3 linked regions of the Homo sapiens genome follow. The protein of the gene in region 2 purifies or fractionates together with the protein of the main gene of each other region. This does not show direct contact. Each region holds a gene or a part of one and is shown on either strand. Other genes may lie near its edges.

Region 1 (7,030 bases), on a different chromosome or scaffold from region 2:
TTGCCACTGTCAATACTTAACAAGTCCTGTGTATACGAATTCTGAAAACACTGGCTCATGTGCCATATGAAACAACAATAGGAATTTTTGGGGAACAAAGACATTATTTAGTCAACAATGAAATCTCATTTTAGGATTATATTCCAGGTACCATACCAAACTGTTTTCAAATGAATCCCTATGTATGCTTGTATACGTTTTATTTCTTAATAACCGTGTTTTAACATTCACCCATCTTATTCTTCCAGTCATTTTACATGTGAAGAATCTGCCTCAATTAATTTTTTTTTTTTTTTGAGATGGAGTCTTGCTCTGTTGCCCAGGCTGGAGTGCAGAAGTCCCATCTCGGCTCACTGCAACCTCTGCCTCCCAGGGTTCAATCGATTCTCCTGTCTCAGCTTCCTGAGTAGCTGGGATTACAGGCACCCGCCACCGCGCCCAATTAATTTTTGTATTTTTAGTAGAGATGGGGTTTCACCATGTTGGCCAGGCTGTTCTTGAACTCCTGACCTCAAGTGATCTGCCTGCCTCAGCCTCCCAAAGTGCTGAGATTACAGGCATGAGACACCACATCTGGCCTGCCTCAATTAGTGTCCCCAGAGAATTGTCATATTAAGATTCAGTTTGAAACCCCCCACTAAGTGCCTCACCGCAGTTACCTCCTCATTCACTAGCCACATGAATGCCCGCCTTAGCCTCAGTCAGCCTCTCTGTCTTCCTTCTGCTCTGCTGAGGACTCACTCCATCACTGTGCATGACAGTTTCATTTCCCTCAGGGCGCCTTCCACAGCCACAGATGCATCTGACAAATGCCCCGAGCTCCTAAATCCCATGGCATTGTTTTGTCTGTACTACTCCATCGACACCGAAAACGTGCCAACCTCTATTATTATTTATCTTTTTATATGCATATATCCAGCTCCTCAACTAAGCTTTAAATCCTCAAGGACCCAGAGCACATCTTACGTGATGATGTGCACAACAGCCCCCTGCCAATACATCAGCACACCAAGCACTTAGTGCACAAGGGTGACCTGCCAGTCACGGAATCTGGAGCTGGGTGCTGCAGGTCCAGTGAGCTCCACGCTGCTACAGCCAGTGGTCATGCCCAGCCCTCCTCACATCTGACCTGGCCACAGCATGAGTCAGCTGATCTCTCCCCTCTCCTGTAGACAGACCTTCTGCGCGGCCTCCAGGACCACACCCTGTAATCACTTTCCACCTCCCTTAGTGGCCGTTACATCTGGCAGCGTTAACTAGCAGTTCCTCACATGCCTGGCCTCTTAAACTTGAAGGCCCCAGAGCGCAGTCCTTGGACTTGTTCTTTAAGTTCACTCTCTTAGTGGTATCAGAATCTCATTTTAGAGGTTCAGACTTACATATGAAGCTCAGAACTCCACACTCCATCTAACTGCCTACCCAACTTCACCACTTGAACCTCATTTGGTATCTCAAACTTAACTTGAAACAAACCAAGTTTCCGGTCCTCCCAATCTTAGTTAACAGTAGTAACTCACTCTCTTTCTAGTTGCTTAGGTCGAAAATGTTGGCTCCCTCTTCCAAATACTCTGTACCCAGAATCTGATCACATCTTACCACCTTCCCTGCTACCACCTGGTCAAGATGCCAACACTTCTCATCATGGTTACTGCAAAACAGCATCTAAACAGGCCCTCTTCTACCCTGGCCCTGCTGCAGTCTTCTCTCAGGAACAGCAGCACTGACTCACCATTAGCACTGGAGTCAGATCATCTCACTCCTCTGCCCCAACCCCCACAGTGACCTGCTGCACTTGCATCAAGTCTCTACTTAATGCCGCCCCTTGTCAGTCTGTTCCCACCTCTCGCCACTCTCCTTGCACACGCTGCGCTTCAGCCACTCTGCCCTCCTCAAACGTGGCAGGCATTTTTCTGCCTCAAGACCTTAGCACTTGATAGTGACTCTGCGTGAAACCTTTCTCCCCTCAAGAGCCACAGCCTCATGCTTGTGTCTGTCAAGAGCACGCTCACATTCCACATTCTAAGTGAGCCTTCCGACAATGCTCTCTAAAACTCCAACACCAGCCTACATGCCCACATACCTTATCCCCTTCCCTGTTCAGTTTTCTCCATGGCTTGTATTAACTAATAACATACCACATACTTTATCTACTTATTTCGTTCTTTACTGTTCTTCCCTTGCTCCCAAGAATGTAAACTGCATAAGGATAGGAATTTTCTTCTGCTTTGTACACTGACTTATTTCCCTGACCGAGAATAATATCTGACATACAGTGGGCAATCAGTAAATATTTGCTGAATTAATAAACAAAAGGGGGATGTAGATGATATAAAACATAGGGCATTAGGTCTCAAGCAGCCTGTGGAAAACCATAAATGTAGCATATGTGTTTAGGCTTCAGTTCTGCCACATTTTAGCAATATAACCTAACCTTAGATTCCTTATCTGTGACACGAATACAAATACCTACCTCACAAAGCTGCAGAGGAAGGAAATGAGATAACAACAGGATAAGCACTGAATGATATTCTAATATTATTATTTTATATAAATATAAAATAAAAATATGGTACTATTATAATCAAACTGTTGACAACAGCGACTACAGAAAAACATACTTTTCACCAAACTGATACTTACAAAAAAAGAAAAAACATACACTAAAAACACACATTTAATACATAACATACATATTATATCTGTTTAGGAGCTTCGATTATATGAAAAAAAATGTAAGTGTTTTAAGGGTTCGGGGACAAAGGAGTCCAAGGAAAGTGAAAAAGTTTAACCAGCTTCATGAAAGAGGTGGGTTTTGAGCTGAGCACTAAAAAAACGGGGTAAGATTTTAACAGGCAGACCAGGAAGAAAAGCTGCTCTCCATAGGAGAGTGACACGAGCAAGGGAACCCAGGCCGCAATGAGCGTGACACGCCTGTAGCTTAACCGAGAGCCCTGACAGGTCAAGGGAAACAGTTGTTTACGAAAGAGTAAGAAGTAAGATTGAGTGCATTTAGAGAACTTTGGAGAAGAGAGGAACATGCTAGGGTGAGAAGGGATAAGCACAGAAGGAATAAAGACAAGCGAGGATTCAGGTTGTGATCTGCCCCCAGTGTCCCCTCTGTCGGTGAGTGGAATGTCTAACCAGATGTACAACCAGAAACCCAGGGGGCCCACCACAATGCCTCCTCCTCCCTCTCACCCTCACTAAGTCTTGCAACTTCACTGCCAAGACCTTGAGTCTCACGCAGCTCCATCATCACGGCCACCCTACTCCTGACTCACCACCTAAATTACAACTGTAAGTTAATAAATGCTTCTGAAAAAACGTATTATGTACATTTATATTATTATTGTGTAACATTTTCTCTTAGACATTATGAATCATAAGGAACTCAACATAGCACAAGGCAAGTTTATGACAAACCCAACGACACACTTCCGTAACACCTCACCTAGCACAAACCTTCCTAAGCAGTACTCTTCTCTCTGAAAAGGAGGCTTATCTGACTGTGTGTTTTTTATATGACCTAACCTACATTTAACCTTGACCTCAGTAAACATACTGATCTTTCATTCTCTTACACTAATTCTAACCAATTTGTCAAATTCAGCACAGAAACTGTGTTAAAATGAAAACAATTTAGACTAACATCAAAATGAAAATTTAGGTTATGATTTTACTCTCAACATTCACATAAAATAAAATTCTTTGGTTGGACAGAATTATGCCAAATTATTAGCTCTATTTAAAAATGGTTCCTATAAAAATACATAGAAAATCTCAATAAATGGTTCTCTACATGTATTAAAAATAGAACACTAATTTACAGCTATTTAAAATCAAAAGCTCAGTTTCATAAAAATCCTATTTTGCCCTTAAATGTTGGATAAACAGGCTTACCTGGATTTTTAGCTATCGTTCCTTGGAGAGCCCTGTGAGAAAACGTGGAATACCCCACCAACTTTGCCAGAAGATCTCTGCTGCTGAGCAATTCTTCTAAACATTTCAATTGACCAGCATTGGGATAAAGAAAAATTTTATAAGCAGCTTCTCGCACCTACGTTTAAAAAGTAAATGGTGAAGGCTATAAATATCATCACACAGTCCTATGCAACAATAACACAGGCTCATGCTCACCACTTGATCTGCAGATGATCACTGCTTTCAAAATAAAGCAATGGTCTACACGAGGCCATAAAGCTTCCAGAGTCATAAAATAGCATGGGATGCAATAGCATACTTGACTGCAGCTCTAGGGTACTGTTCTGAGGTACGGTGGGGCAAACCTCTACCCAGTGCGTGGATCTCTATGCTATAAAGCGTCTTAACCAGGAGAAGTAAGGCTGCATGAATTTAAAAGTCTCTGTAGTCTAGAATGTCAGTTAATGGTGTTATTAATCATACTTTAAAAATAAGGAGTCTTGTATGAAATATAAGTAATTAAATCATTTTCATTCTTTAAAGTGTTTATGGCATTAATAATTCCACAAGTTAAATTTTTAGGGCTTAGTAATGCTAAAAAGTTTTTAAGGATACTATTATATTATCACTGAATTTTGGGTTAAAACAGTAGCAACACACAAATGGGACCTAAACAACAAAGAGAATGAAACATACATACCAAGTCATCTGGTGATTCTGCGTGGAGACCATCAATTATGATATGATCCCCAGCAGATGTAAAGTTACGACGAATGTGTTCTGGTAAGAGATGCTTCTCAATCTTGTTGGGAAAATTGGTTCCCATAAGAAATGTACTACTCAAATCCAAGATTTTAACATTGAGGTCCACTGCTCTTTTACGCTGTATGCAGGAGGAGTAAAAGTTATTTAAAGGCGTTTTGAATTAATATTTCACAATTTAATAAACAAAATATAAATATGTCAAATCAACATATATATTGTTGAATTATCACTTAATAAAATATTAGTTTAGTAAAATGAATATATTGTTACTATATTATAAATAATATATTAATTTTACTTTTAACAGATATTTAATATTCTAACAAAAAGATCATACTTATGGTTTTCTGATGTTTCTATGTTTTAAGATTTACATAACTTCTAGTTCTATTTTATGTCTAGGTTATATAACTAATTGTTGAAATTAACAACATTGAAAAACACATGCCAGGTGCAGTGACTCACGCCTGTAATCCCAGCACTTTGGGAGGCCAAGGAGGGCAGATCACTTGAGGTCAGGGGTTGGAGACCAGTCTGGCCAACATGGTGAAATCCCATCTCTACTAAAAATACAAAAATTAGCTGGGCGTGGTGGCACGTGCCTATAATCTCAGCTACTCAAGAGGCTGAGGCACGAGAATCGCTCGAACCCAGGAGGCGGAGGTTGCAATGAGCCGAGATCGCACCACTGTACTCCAGCCTGTGAGACAGAGGGAGACTCTGTCTCAAAAAAAAACAAAAAACAAAAAAACAGTTATTTGCAAAAGTGTAGTGAGCCTCCAGAAGGGGGAAGCACATTTTAAAAGTTCTGATTTTGGGTGTGGTAGCACACGCCTGCAGTCCCAGCCCTATGTGGGGCTGAGGCAGCAGGATCACTTGAGCCCAGGAGGTAAGGCTTCAGTGAGCTACGATCACACCACTGCAACCTGGGCAACAAAGCGAGACCCTGTCTCAGGGGGGAATAAAGTTCTGATTTTGCATGTGCTTGAGCTGCTACAGAATGATACAGTGAAGTCTAAGAAGCAGACTGGAACCCCAGGGCATGGTCCTTTCTTCTACTCTGTGTCCCTGCCATGTGGCACATGGTCCTTGCTCCTGCCAGGCCTTCAAATGGTCAGTGATGAGGACGTGGATGGTGCGGACACATCTGCTTAGGTTTAATCTTGCAGTCATATCTTTGTAATACACAATAACCTGAGAAAACGTGTATTAGCAAAGGGGTTGCCATAAATGCTCTAAGATTAAATATAAACTAGAAACCACATAATTAGGCTGACTGGAGGAGAAGGGCTGAATTTTCAGTTATTGGCTACTCAAAAACTAGACAGGCTCTGCAGATGAATTTTCAGTTATTGGTTACTCAAAAACTAGACAGGCTCTGCATATGAATTTTCAGTTACTGGTTACCAAAAAACTAGACAGGCTCCGCACTGGGCTCATGTTGGGCTTCAGGTGAAAGTGTACACAAATCTTTCTGGGAGAGGAGATAGCAATTAACAAGTTCTAAACTGTTCTATGCTCCTAAAAAATGATTAAGCCACAATACTAATATACTTTTTAAAGATAAACATAGATGATGTAGAGGCATGCTTGATAAGATGCTGAAAAAATTGAGTATATATCAATATCCCCAGAATTTCAATATAGAAAATTCAAATTTCATGGAAAAAAGTTTTAGGAGACTCCCATTTCCTTACAGTCCAGATTTCTCTTTGCTTATTTTGTTTGATATGGCCATTTATCACCACCTAATGGTAACAAGTGGAATAACAAAAAAGATGAACAAGATTTTGAAATCACATTACAGTTCCAAAATTGTCTTCAAAACTTTTACTTTGAAAAAAAAAATGTGATAAAATTAACTACTTTGAAGATTTTATCTACTGATAAAACCTCTGGAAAAATCAAAACTGAGTTCATGCCAACTTCAATGATCTGCCAGGCATATCACTTCATCATTCTGTGGTAACAATGAAATGTACAATAATCTGAACTCTTGAAAAATTCTATGAAATTTCTGTGTTATTAAATAATGTTAAAAATAAACATTTCTATTACATTTAAACTTATAAGTTATATTTGTATGAGACCTTAAAAATTAAGGCCGGGTGCAGTGGCTCACGCCTATAATCCCAGAACTTTGGGAGGCTGAGGCAGGTGGATCACCTGAGGTCGGGAGTTCGAGACCAGCCTGACCAACATGGAGAAACCCCGTCTCTACCAAAAATACAAAATTAGCTGGGCGTGGTGGCACATGCCTGTAATCCCAGCTACTCAGGAGGCTGAGGCAGAAGAATCGCTTGAACCCGGGAGGCGGAGGTTGCGGTGAGCCAAGATTGCCCAA
Region 2 (5,308 bases):
TCAGATTGTGGAATCTTTGGCATTTGACTTTCTGTTGTTCAACCTTGTAATTCTTTTGCAGGAGAAACTCTTAAAGCAAATGAGGATTTTATGGAAAAAGATTCAAGAAAATCAGAGAAATCTATATGAGGAGGGAAGAACAGCCTTCCTCTGGAGGGTAAGTATGAGACCGTGAGTCCTCCTGACCAGCTTGAGACAGGCATGCTGACAACATTTATATTAGCAACTTGAGTTGAAATTCTTATGCCAGATTTTGTCATGTGTTTATTCATAGGCTGGAAAACAACCAGACTGTTCAACATAACGATTGTTCAGGTTTTCTGTAAATGCTTTTCAGATAAGTAAAAAATAAATATAAATTCTGAAGGGCAAGTATGTGCTTAAAATTAATAAGTATTTCAGACAGAGTTTTCTGTATAAAATTAATTATGAAATGTTGATTAAATAGTATATAATTGAGAAATAAAGGCATTTATTGGTGAATATGATATTGTCCAGGGGGAAGAAATCGGGTGGGAACAGTAATTTAAGAAATGTGCCTGTGCTGGTGAAATCTGATAGCAAAGGACCCACATGATGCCAGTCCGAGTAGGAGAAAATGCAACATGAGGAAAAGCTGAGGAGAAGGGATAAAAAATGACTGGGGCAGTGAGAGGATAAATATGTCATTATTGAGAGGAGAAACACAATGGAATGGGGATTAATGTTCTTAGAATGGCAGTGCAATACAGAGTCTATGGATTTGACAGAAGAAAGATAGGAGACAGAAAAGAGGTAGTCAGTTTGAGAGATGGGGGTTAAATTTTTTACTAAGATCCTTTTTGTGTGATGGCTTCTGATCCTGATTATAATATACTAAAAACATTTCTACTAAGAGTGATTGTTCAGGCTGTGAAGTACAGAGATTTGAAACAACAACCTAAGTGAATAACAAAGATTATGTGTATTATCCATGACAATGTAACAATCATAAATTTTAGTTGTTTTCTAATTGTATTTCCGATTTGATTTAAACATTTAAACCTAAAGGGCTTTTTTGCAGGTGTTTGGGAATTGATGAATTACATAAATTTTGAAGGAAGGTCTTGCTTAACTCATCATCCTGTTTGTAAAGGATGGAAAATAAAAGAAGGAATGAGGAGGATGAAGTTGTAGGCTCTGTGAGGTGGAAGTAGGCCTGGGTATATAACCTACAAAATTCATATCCCTACAGGGCAATGTGGTTTTACGGGCACAGATGATCAGGAATGAGTATAGGAAGCTGCATCCGGTTCTCCATAAGGAAGAAAAACAACATTTAGAGAGACTGAACAAGGAATACCAAGAGATTTTTCAGCAACTCCAGAGAAGTTGGGTCAAAATGGATCAAAAGAGTAAACACTTGAAAGAAATGTATCAGGAACTAATGGAAATGTGTCATAAACCAGATGTGGAGCTGCTCCAGGTAAGAATGGAGGATGCCCCTTGAGACACTTTGTGTTAGCTGACCTTTACATCTTTGCCTTCCATTGGGTACCAAAGACATTATTTCCTCATCTCCTGTACTGACGGTGAGAGTCATTCCCACCGGTTATAGAGATAAACTATAACTCCTACGCTAATCATGGAAATAAAGCTTTATGGAATTGTGCAACTAGATTTCCATACAACATTTTCTACCACAAGCTTCCTCCTCCAGCACATTTCATTAAAACTCTGGAAGAAAAAATTTCATGCTTGATTTGAGCCACATTACACTTTGGGGACTAGCCCTGAAAAAGACCACATTGTAGACAGCTGCAGCAATGCGCAGTCACTACTCACACCTTTCTCTCTCACTCAAATTTAGGGTCCTTAATTTATCAGAAATCCATATTGTCAATAGGTCTTACTGGTATAATTGTTAGAGATGAGAATACATTTTAAAAGAGTGGCAGTAATAGTATACGGTAATTCTAAAGTTTTGAAAACCTAAAGACCAGATAGGCAGAATAGCAACTTTTTTGTGTGTTTATTTTGAGACAGAGTCTTCTTCTGTCACCCAGACTGAAGTCCAATGGCCCAATCTCAGCTCACTGCAACTTCTGCCTCCTTGGTTCAAGCAATTCTCCTGCCTCAGCCTCCCTAGTAGCTGGGACTAAAGGCATGAACCACCACACCCCACTATTTGTGTGTGTGTGTGTATTTTTAGTAGAGACGGGGATTTGCCATGTTGTCCAGGCTAGTCTGGAACTCCTGACCTCAGGTGTTCCACCCACCTTGGCCTCCCAAAGTGCTGGGATTACAGGTGTGAACCACCTCACCCAACAAGAATAACAACTTTCTAAAGAAGTCATTTTTTTTTTCTCTCTCTCTCTACAGGATTTGGGAGACATCGTGGCAAGGTATGTTTTTGGCCGTCAGTGCAAACTGGAGCACAAGGCATGCTATGAAAAACATCAAGCTGTTTCCAACAAAGTGAAAACATAATTTACTAACACCATAATGTGTCAGTGTGATTGTGTGTGTATGTGTGTGTAGTCATGTGTTTATGTGGTATGATGAATGTCATCTATGCCTTTTATCAGACATTAATCTTTTCTTACTTTCCCAAGTGACTCAGGGGTTTATGTTTTGAAGAGTGCAATGCAGAGGTTGCTAGAATACAGTTGCCTCTTTTTGCGATTCAGAATCATAATTAGAGATAAACTATTTGGTGGCAGATAGGGAGAGAGGCATTTATCTTTCAGGGGCAGTAGGTTAGAAATGGAGTGAATAGTTAGAAAGATTCCCTAAGAGCCACAAACCCATCCTAGCGTTGTGGAGGTACATTACGGTATCAGAAGTGGGTTTGAATGAAGCATTTTCTGTTGGAATCTGTTTCTTAAACACAGACATCAGAAAGTTAACCAACTCAACCTACTTCCTTGCAGGAGTGAGTCCGTGCTGCTGCACATGCCCCAGCCTGTGAATCCAGAGCTCACTGCAGGACCCATCACTGGACTGGTGTACAGGCTCAACCGCTTCCGAGGTGAGTGTGGCCCTGTTGGTGGGATCCACATGCAATGCCTTCAATTATGGTTTTCTATGGGCAGCTTTCCCAGTGTAATGATCTTTCATCTAGAAGAAGAGAATAGCCTGTGAATAGGTATTTATATTTATAGTTTCACTATCATCAAACAGACAAAACGAAATAAAAGCTGGTGAAATGTAATAGGAATCAGCCATATAACAAATTTCTTAGAAAAATAAAACATGCAGAAGGGCTCTTTAGGACTTTAGGAACCATTCTCTGATACAATTTCATGTATACAATTATTACATGAAGTATACAGAACTGAATTCAGGACATTTCAATTTCAAATTCAGTGCAGTTAACGACTGATTTGAGTGACAGCGTTTTTTTAAAAAAAATACATTTTTAGGTGATGTTTCATAGCATTTATAATTTTAATCATGTTTTTAATCAACTAAAGCATACATGAGTAACTTATATAACAATGCAAAAACTGAGAATCTGTCAACAATAGGAACATGATTTGGTGGTTGATGAGGTCTTAGATAGAACTCCAGGATAGATCATGACAAATCCAGCAGAATAAAAGAAGTCTGTGCCTGAATCTGGCATGAAAGTCAGATAATTTTTGCAAGGAATCAGCACTTTTCAGAAGGCAGATTCAGGTTTTCTCTTTAAGTATGAATTTGCTAGGTTAAGTGGCAGATCATAATATTTCTGGAAAGTGATAACTTTTTTATTTGGGACTAAGAATAGCTCCCCACCTCATCTCCTGTCCAAAGCCTCCTGCTCTGCCCTGACAGAGACGAGACAATGAAGGTTAATTTTATGGCTATGGACTTGGCTGCAGTGGAGGAGCTTCCAGTTTTTCAGTTGTTATGAAAGGTCGCTAACGAGACATAGACATGACCTTCCTCCCCTTTATACTTTTTGAGTTTATGGAAATTGTGATCATCCTAGTTTAGCCATTTACTTGTGCAGATCTCCTAACACCCTTTGATTCCAACATTTTTCCAGACAGAAGTTTCTTTCTAATCTTGACCTGTGTTTTCTAGTGAGAATCTCTTTCTTATCTGAACATAAGAATTTACAAACTGATTTTCACTGGAACATTCTCTTTTTTCTACAGTGGAAATTTCCTTCCATTTTGAAGTAACCAATCACAATATCAGGCTCTTTGAGGATGTGAGAAGTTGGATGTTTAGACGTGGACCTTTGAATTCTGACAGATCTGACTATTTTGCTGCATGGGGAGCCAGGGTCTTCTCCTTTGGGAAACACTACTGGGAGCTGGATGTGGACAACTCTTGTGACTGGGCTCTGGGAGTCTGTAACAACTCCTGGATAAGGAAGAATAGCACAATGGTTAACTCTGAGGACATATTTCTTCTTTTGTGTCTGAAGGTGGATAATCATTTCAATCTCTTGACCACCTCCCCAGTGTTTCCTCACTACATAGAGAAACCTCTGGGCCGGGTTGGTGTGTTTCTTGATTTTGAAAGTGGAAGTGTGAGTTTTTTGAATGTCACCAAGAGTTCCCTCATATGGAGTTACCCAGCTGGCTCCTTAACTTTTCCTGTCAGGCCTTTCTTTTACACTGGCCACAGATGATCAGGATTAAGAAAACTTACTGTTTGGGAACTCCATATACAAGGGAGCCCTTCACTGTTGATACAAAGAAATCATACTGTTCAGGCTTTTTTGTACTTTAGTGTCACTTCATTTTATTGCTATTAAATAAAAAATTTGTAAAAGGCAAAACTTTTTGTACATTTTCTTACAATTAAAATAATCTCTTATGGACCATTACCTAAAATACGTATTGTGATTTTCAAGTGTTTGTGAATTTATTGGATGGAATTCTGGAAATATGTGGGTGTGTGATTCCAACTTAATGATCTCATTCAGGAACAACTTTTGTACATCATGGGCAGACGGGGTTTTGTACAATGCACTTGTAAGTGTGAGAGTTCCCTCCTATTAATACAGTAAATTCTACACCTCATCCCTTTGGGGGGAAAAATTTATTTCACACAGAAGTTGTCACTGAATCTTTGGGCTAGAACAGGAATTTAACAGTCATGCATCCTATGGCAACAAAATACATTCTGAGAAATGCATTATTAGGCGATTTCATCATTGTGTGAACATCAGAACACACTACAAAAACCTAGATAGTATATTCATCTACAGACATAGGCTAATGGTACAGCCTATTGCTTTTCTGAGAATTTGCTAGCGATGTCTGAGCAAGAACCAAAAGGGTTTAACCCACATTGAATTCTGCAGCTGTTTAATAAAGCAAACAGCATCATCCAGGGAATAATAGATGTG
Region 3 (7,034 bases), on a different chromosome or scaffold from region 2:
TACAAAAATTAGCTGGACGTGGTGGTGGATGCCTGTAATCCTAGCTGCTCGGGAGGCTGAGGCATGAGAATTGCTTGAACCTGGAGGCGGAGGTTGCAGTGAGCTGAGATTGTGCCATATCACTTCAGCCTGGGCAACAAGAATGAAACTCTGTCTCAAAAAAAAAAAAAAAAAAAAAAGGATATGGAGGCCCATGGCCTCTATCTTTCCAATGCAGCCCCTTCCCCAGCAGTACTCCTGAGCCTGTGCTCTCCACTGTGGCCTGACAGTGCTCCTCTGTTTCCTTCAGTTCCTCCTTGGCTGTCTGCTCATTTTGCAGAGTTATCTGGAACCTCATCACTATTCCATCTGTCCATTCCCATCCATTCCTTAAGGTTTAGCTCAAGTACCACCTCTGGGCCAGGCCTGTAGGCCATGTTAAGTGAACCTGGTGGGGGCCACAGGATGTTTTTCCGGGAGGATTTTCACATTACATTGCTACATGTCATATGGTTAGTGCTAATTGATCCAGACTCCCAAACGGCTCCTTCCACCATCAGGATCAAGGCCCCAATCTTGGGGTCTGTCCATCAGCCTAAGCCAAGCTTTTTTGGACTCACATTTGTGACTTTCTTGGACTCATATTTGGCTCTTTCCAATGCACATTTGAGCATTTGCCAGACAGTTCCTTAAAAATGGAATTACCCTATTCTGTCTACCATACTACTGTCTACTATTGCTTAAGATCCTCCTCTTCTAAGATTATGCAAATTATTTCTGCCAACCTTCCAATCTGTTAGCAGAATCCTGTACTTTCCATTTTTGGGTAGATTCTCCCTTCCACTCTGGGAAATAAAGTGTATGCCGTGAGCCTCAAGGGAAGAGGAGCTTCCTTTGTGAATGCTTCATATTTGCTTCAGCAGCTGCAAGGCTGGTGTCCACTACTAATTCTGACATCGACTTATATACTTTCTTTGAGACTAAAGTCCAGTACCCGGTAGTCCACAGGCAGCCAATAAAGGAAGGGAGCCTGGGAGGTCTGGGTCTTTCCTTACTGGCTGTGGGACCTTGGGAAGTTGCTCCAGCTATCTGAGCCAGGGTCTGCAGACTGAGAGAATAGTCCTTGCCTTGCTTGGGTTGTTGTCAGGTCTAGAGATAACCTGTGTAAGGCTCTGAACACAGGAAATGGCACATAGTAAGTGGCTGAAACATGGTGGGCTGCTTCCTGAGGTTCCCAGGGACTTGACTCTATAAGCTGAAGAAGAGGGGAATGTTTATTAACTCATGGGTGGGAACATGTATTTTGTGATTGTATTTACCCTTCACATCTGTTCAATTAGATTGAAAATTACTGCAGAACCAGTACCAGCTGTTTCTTTGGGGTACTCAAGGGATGATGCAGGGTTGAAGCATTAGAATGTTTTAAAATTCTCTGACTGAGATGGGATGATTCTCTGACGTTAGTATATGGACATAATAGAAAGGCACACAGTAAAAATGTGCTGCTGTCTAGGAAAGCAGGGAAGGAGGCTCAGGCTGGCTCCGTTTTCCACCTCCTGGCTCTGTGCCCATTTCCCTGCAGCTCACCGTGGCCACCAGCCGCTCCCGGTCCTCCGCCTTCCCCACATGGCACACGGTGCCCGTCACGCTCAGCCCCTCCCCCTGCAGCGTGGCCACCGCCTGGTCCACATTCTGCTGCTTCCGGCTGCTGACGACCACATGGGCCCCGTCCTGGGCCAAACGCCGGGCGATGGCGAAGCCGATCCTGTGAGCAGAAAGAGACAAAGACTGCTAAGGCCTGTGCAGGGGAAGAGGTCGACAGTATGAGCTCTGAAGTTAAGACTGCCCGGGTTTGAATTCTGGCTCTTTCTCTATATAACCCCTACGTGTGCCTACTATGTGTAAAACAGGCTTAATGGCATGGCCATTTTTGGCATTCCTTTACTTGTTTTTATTATGACCTGGACCACAGCCTCAGTTCCCAAGAACTGACATCACTTTCTACAGTTCCCACCATGGGTGACAGGCTTCATCCCCTCTTGGGACTGAGAGGTGAGAAATGAGCTGGGTTTGCAGCAGCAGCCACTTCCGTGATTTGAGGGTCTCACTCAGAACAGCCCTGCCCCCAGGTTTCTTTCTTACTCGTCTACATCATTCTCAAAATTCTATCCTTAGTTATTTTTTGGGGTGCATGTGAAAAGATGGTCTCCGGTCAAAAATGTAAATATTGCCTTGGGAGGAAGAGTTACACATTTTGCATTTGTCAGCTATTAGCATTTTACCTACATTTGTATTTTAGTTTTGTGAAGAGCTGGCATCTAGCAAAGTCCTGTAGAAATGAGGACCAGGATAGACAAGAATGGTGGGTGAGAAACAGGCTGGGCAAGGTCGGCCCAGATGTACCGACCTAAACAAAAATCTCGACATATGGCTCTGGTGTCCCATCTAGGTAAGGGGGAGGGGTTCCGGGGGACTTTCCGGTGCCCAAATAGAATGTCTGGTACATTTTCAAAGTGCTGGAGGCCGTGGGATAGTATTTTGAAATCCAGATTTCCTTGGATTTCCAGTTTCTGGTCTTCCCAGACGCTAGGTGGCGCTGGTTGACTGGGGCAGCCCAGAACACTGGGGAGACTAGATCGATAGGGCTGCACAGAGGTGGCACAGTTGTGCCAGAGGTAGCAGGGACAGGAGGGCTGGCAAGGGAGGGTCCAGGGCTAGGGGATTCGGAGTGGCTTCAGGCGGACCACGTGGCTACCTTTTTTCCAGGGCCAGACTTTGGCAGCGTGTAAGGTCTGAGGACAGGGGCACCGGAGGCCGAGGATGAGAGGCCAGTGCCTGTTTCCAGGCAGCCAGGGCCTCAGAAACTCCGGCCGGAGCACTCACCCGTCGGTGGAGGCCGTTACCAGGGCCACCTTATTTGCGAGCGGGTCCCGGCGGGTCATCCCGGAGCTGGCCATCCGCACCGAATTCCAAGCCCGGGCACAGAGGCCTAGCAGCCCCGCCTTGTGCATGGATCAGACCAGCAAGTATGGGTTCCACTCTTCCCAGGGGCGGTGACAGAGTAGGGCGAGGGGCAGGACGAAGGGCGGGCCGATTCCCTGCCCGCCCTGCTCCCCGCCCCGGTACCGCTGTGAGCGGTCTGTGGCCCTGGGCACCTCCATCCGCCGCGGCGCCCCTCCACCATCTACCTTCCGCCTGACTGGGGCTTGCCTTTCCGGGCTGGCGGGTGAGCTCTCCGTTCAAGTTGCCTGTAGGGCTCGCCCCTCCCCTGGCCCTTGCAGGAACCCGCAGGCTTTGGCTGCTGCCTTTCTGCATCTGCTTGCCCACCTTTTCTTCTCTGGGAAGTGGGGGTTTTGAGTTGGTTGCTTTTGCTTCTTCAGAATTCCTTCTCCAAGAAAGTCTGGGTCTATGTGTGTGACAGCCCACAGGAGGGCAAATGTTTTGAGACTGCCCATGGAGGTGAGGCCTGTGGTCGCCATGGAGTCCACCAGGTGAGGCTGGAAGAGCCTGGGAGAGAGACGTGATAGGGAGTAGCTGCGCCAGGCCTGGCACTGCCCTTCACTCTGCCCAAGGTCTCTTCCATCTTCACGGGCCCTGGAGGGCAGACTATGGTCATTGGCCAAACAGCATTCTCATGTCCGTTGACAAAGGGACTTCCTCCTTTACAGGGGCTAAGTGGTAGCGAGGAGGCTGGACAGTCCCTCAAGCAGTGGTGGAAATGCAAAGAACTCGGGGCACTCAAGTTCTCCCTAACCACTCTGTCCCCAGGTCTTAGCCGCCATCTTAGTTCAATAAATATTTGTTGAATGCAAAATCTCTTTATGAACTGTAAGCTACTAAGCACATAGTAGTTACTGCCACCATGTAGTGATTATTATTGGTGCCCTGGGCCAGACTCTTCATCTGTAAATTACTGAGGGTATGGATGATGAATAAAGTCCTTGCCAGCTATAAATTCTGTGTCCAAGACTTCAGTCTGCACTTCTGCCAAGTGGGCTGAAATGATCTCCCTCCTGGGTTTCCGGGAGAATGAAGAAATCTGGATGGCTTATGGTACAGTGTAGAAAGGCCCCAACAGACCCAAATGCAAGCATCTGAATTGGTTTAACCCACTGGCCTCCAAAGCCAGACTGAGAAGCAGTGCTGGTTCATGGCAGCGTTTTCACTAGTTCAAGGCAAAATGAGAAAAGGAAACAATTACAGTGAGTTTCATAAAGCTAAGCTTATTTAACAGTCCTTTATTGTGGAGTATACGTTTGCTTCTTTTTGTGTGTGTGTGTGTGTGTTAGTGTTTTCTTTTAGAAAAGATGATGAAAGCAGATGGGTAGGTTTAGAGATGTGTTATTGGTGAAATCACCAGTTTGGCAGCCTTATGCCAGTCCCTACAATTAAAGGGGAAAGAATCCTGGTTTGTGAAATCCAGTTCTAGGCATGACTTTTGAATAGAATTCATGTTTGCTCAAGATTCATTTAGTATATGTGCAGGTAAGCTGAGCAGCTGAAAAAGGGTTTCAACATTCAAAAGGGGGTGTATGGTGAGCAAGTAATAGAACGGCCTGCACTGGAATTCTAGTGTTTTCCTCAGCCAAGAAGTTACAGCTGCAATACTCTGCTTTGCTACTCAGCAGATCCCGATGAGACAGGAGAGCTTCAGTATAATTTTCCCCATGTCCAGGGAAGGCTGACTCTGACTGGTGCTCCTCAGTCTGAGCCTCATGAATTATTGACAGAGGCTGGAAGCGCCACACTGCTTGTCCTCTTGCACTGTTTGGAGCTAACGCACTGTGGGAACCCTTCCCAGGGCTCTCCATCTGTGTGTGCGGCTGGGGGAGGGTACACAGGAGGACGGCTGCGGGGGTTCTCAGGGCTTGGTTCAAAGGGACAGGCCTGCAGGGGGCGTTTGATCTCTCTTTCCCTTCTCTTCAGAGGTAGACAGGTGGACTCAGGGGCTGAGGTTGGCAGGAAGGTGAGGAAGACTACACTTCAAAGAGCAAAGGATTCTGGGAAGAGAGAATTGTGGCTTGGGTGCTTGGTGAACATTACATGGCCCTTCCTTGTGTGGGCAGGGTTGCTATTTGGCCTCTAGCACTATTTCTTTTGTGGAGAGCACAGGGGACATTAGGGAGGGGGCCTGTGAGCAGAAAAGGATGGAAGGAAGTCAAGAAGTATGGGACTCTCTAGCACTACTCCTCATCAAGCTCGCTTATTGGAGATAAGAACAGGAAATCTTGGGCTGGGCATGGTGGCTCACACCTGTAATCCTCTTTACTAACAATACGAAAATTAGCTGGGCGTGGTCAGAAGTTCGAGATCAGCCTGGCCAACATGGTGAAACCTCATCTCTACTAAAAATACAAAAACCAGCCGGGCCTGGTGGCATGTGCCTGTAATCCCAGCTACTCAGGAGGCTGTGGCAGGAGAATTGCTTGAACGTGGGAGGCAGAGGTTGCAGTGAGCCAAAATCATGCCATTGCACTCCAGCCTGGGCAGCAGAATGAAAGACTCCATCTAAATAAATAAATAAATAAATAAATAAATAAATAAATAAATAACGGGAAATCTTTCAGGGAAATACATGCATATGTGGGAGTATCTCTTTGAAATGGGAACTGTAACAGGCAATGGGATTGTTCTTACATGGAGGTGGTAACATCTGCCTATCTTGAGGGACAAATGCCTTCATGAGTGAGGGCACTACTCCCATCCTTTTCAAGGGCTGCCTGCGGTCCAGAAGAGATTTCACCTGGGGTGGAATTTAAGTCTTGCGTTTTGCAATAGCTGTCCTAGATTGAGTCGAGTCCTGCATCACTGACACAAGTCAGAATTAGGCAATGTGGGAGGGCTGGTGTGGGGTTAGGACAACTACCAAGCAGAGAAAGTAATAGTAAGAGTGTTAACAGTATTTATTGAGCACTTCCTTACTAAATGCTGGCAAGCGTTAAGTGCTTTTTATAAATTTTATTGAATATTTTTAGTCTGGTGAAATGGGTGTTTTAATGTAGGGAGCCAAAGGCCTGAGGGTCGTGACCAACTCAGCATTCCACTGAAGGCTGTATGATCTAACAGCAAACTGTTTATCATGAATGCAGAATGTGGGCAAACTCACTTCTGCGCCTGCTACCAGAAGGTTTGCTGAGGGCAATGACTCCCTGGTGCTGTGCTCCTTGAGGTTATCTACAGGAACATCTGGAGACTACTGTTCAAAGAATGCAGTCATGCAAGCCTGCACTAAGCCAAGCAGCTGACTGACAACTACCCCCTTCTCCCTATCTCCTTTACTCAATAAATACAAAGGGCTATAGAAGCTCAGGGCCCTTCTTCACTAGAAGCAAGGAGCCTCCTGACCCCTTCTTCCAAAATACTCTTTTGTCTTTGTCTTTATTCCCACATTCATCTTCTTTTGTTAAGTCCACCAAGGACTGTGGCATTTTAACTTCTTCTTCTTTTTTTTTTTTTACTTTGTGACAGAGTTTTGCTCTGTCGCCAGGCTGGAGTGCAGTGGCACAATCTCAGCTCACTGCAACCTCTGCCTCCTGGGTTCAAGTGATTCTCCTGCCTCAGCCTCCCAAGTAGCTGGGACCACAGGTGCATACCACCTCACCCAGCTAATTTTTGTATTTTTAGTAGAGACGGGGTGTCACCATGTTGGCCAGGATGATCTCGATCCCTTGACCTAGTGATCTTCCTGCCTTGGCCTCCAAAAGTGCTGGGATAGCAGGCGTGAGCCACTGCACCCAATTAGGTGTTTTAAATTCTCTATGTGAAATCAGAGTGACTGATGACAACCTTGACCACTGTGTGTGTTGCATAGTTACACTTCAGTTTTCTGGCATTGTTGGGCAATCCATAGTTTTCATAGAAATCAATTTTCTCTCAACTGGAATTTAAACTTTCAGGATCAGTGTGTTTTTCAAATCAACACATCTACTCATTAAATTATATAAATAACACATTATTTTAAAAAGGGACAGAAAATTATTTGAAAAGTAAAAGGTAACTCTTCCCTATGGTTCTTTTACCTTCTTCCCATATAGCTCTTGGCTTTGTGTATCCTT

What was found.
Region 1: the proteins of TRIM43 (region 2) and MIPEP purify together in Homo sapiens (affinity purification with mass spectrometry; 2 studies listed by BioGRID and IntAct, with this or other methods). This does not show direct contact.
Region 3: the proteins of TRIM43 (region 2) and DHRS4 purify together in Homo sapiens (affinity purification with mass spectrometry; 2 studies listed by BioGRID and IntAct, with this or other methods). This does not show direct contact.

What each region holds. Positions count from the first base shown.
Region 1 is NC_000013.11:23,865,392-23,872,421, forward strand, and holds part of MIPEP (mitochondrial intermediate peptidase), read right to left. Parts: intron 4,805-7,030; coding exon 4,622-4,804; intron 4,058-4,621; coding exon 3,901-4,057; intron 1-3,900. UniProt on the Homo sapiens protein: Cleaves proteins, imported into the mitochondrion, to their mature size.
Region 2 is NC_000002.12:95,594,989-95,600,296, forward strand, and holds the end of TRIM43 (tripartite motif-containing protein 43), read left to right. Parts: intron 1-61; coding exon 62-157; intron 158-1,213; coding exon 1,214-1,444; intron 1,445-2,340; coding exon 2,341-2,363; intron 2,364-2,891; coding exon 2,892-2,989; intron 2,990-4,103; coding exon 4,104-4,585; 3' UTR 4,586-4,790; downstream 4,791-5,308.
Region 3 is NC_000014.9:23,949,745-23,956,778, reverse strand, and holds the start of DHRS4 (dehydrogenase/reductase SDR family member 4), read right to left. Parts: upstream 3,010-7,034; 5' UTR 2,991-3,009; coding exon 2,863-2,990; exon of another isoform or gene 2,582-2,862; intron 2,032-2,581; exon of another isoform or gene 1,745-2,031; coding exon 1,567-1,744; intron 1-1,566. UniProt on the Homo sapiens protein: NADPH-dependent oxidoreductase which catalyzes the reduction of a variety of compounds bearing carbonyl groups including ketosteroids, alpha-dicarbonyl compounds, aldehydes, aromatic ketones and quinones.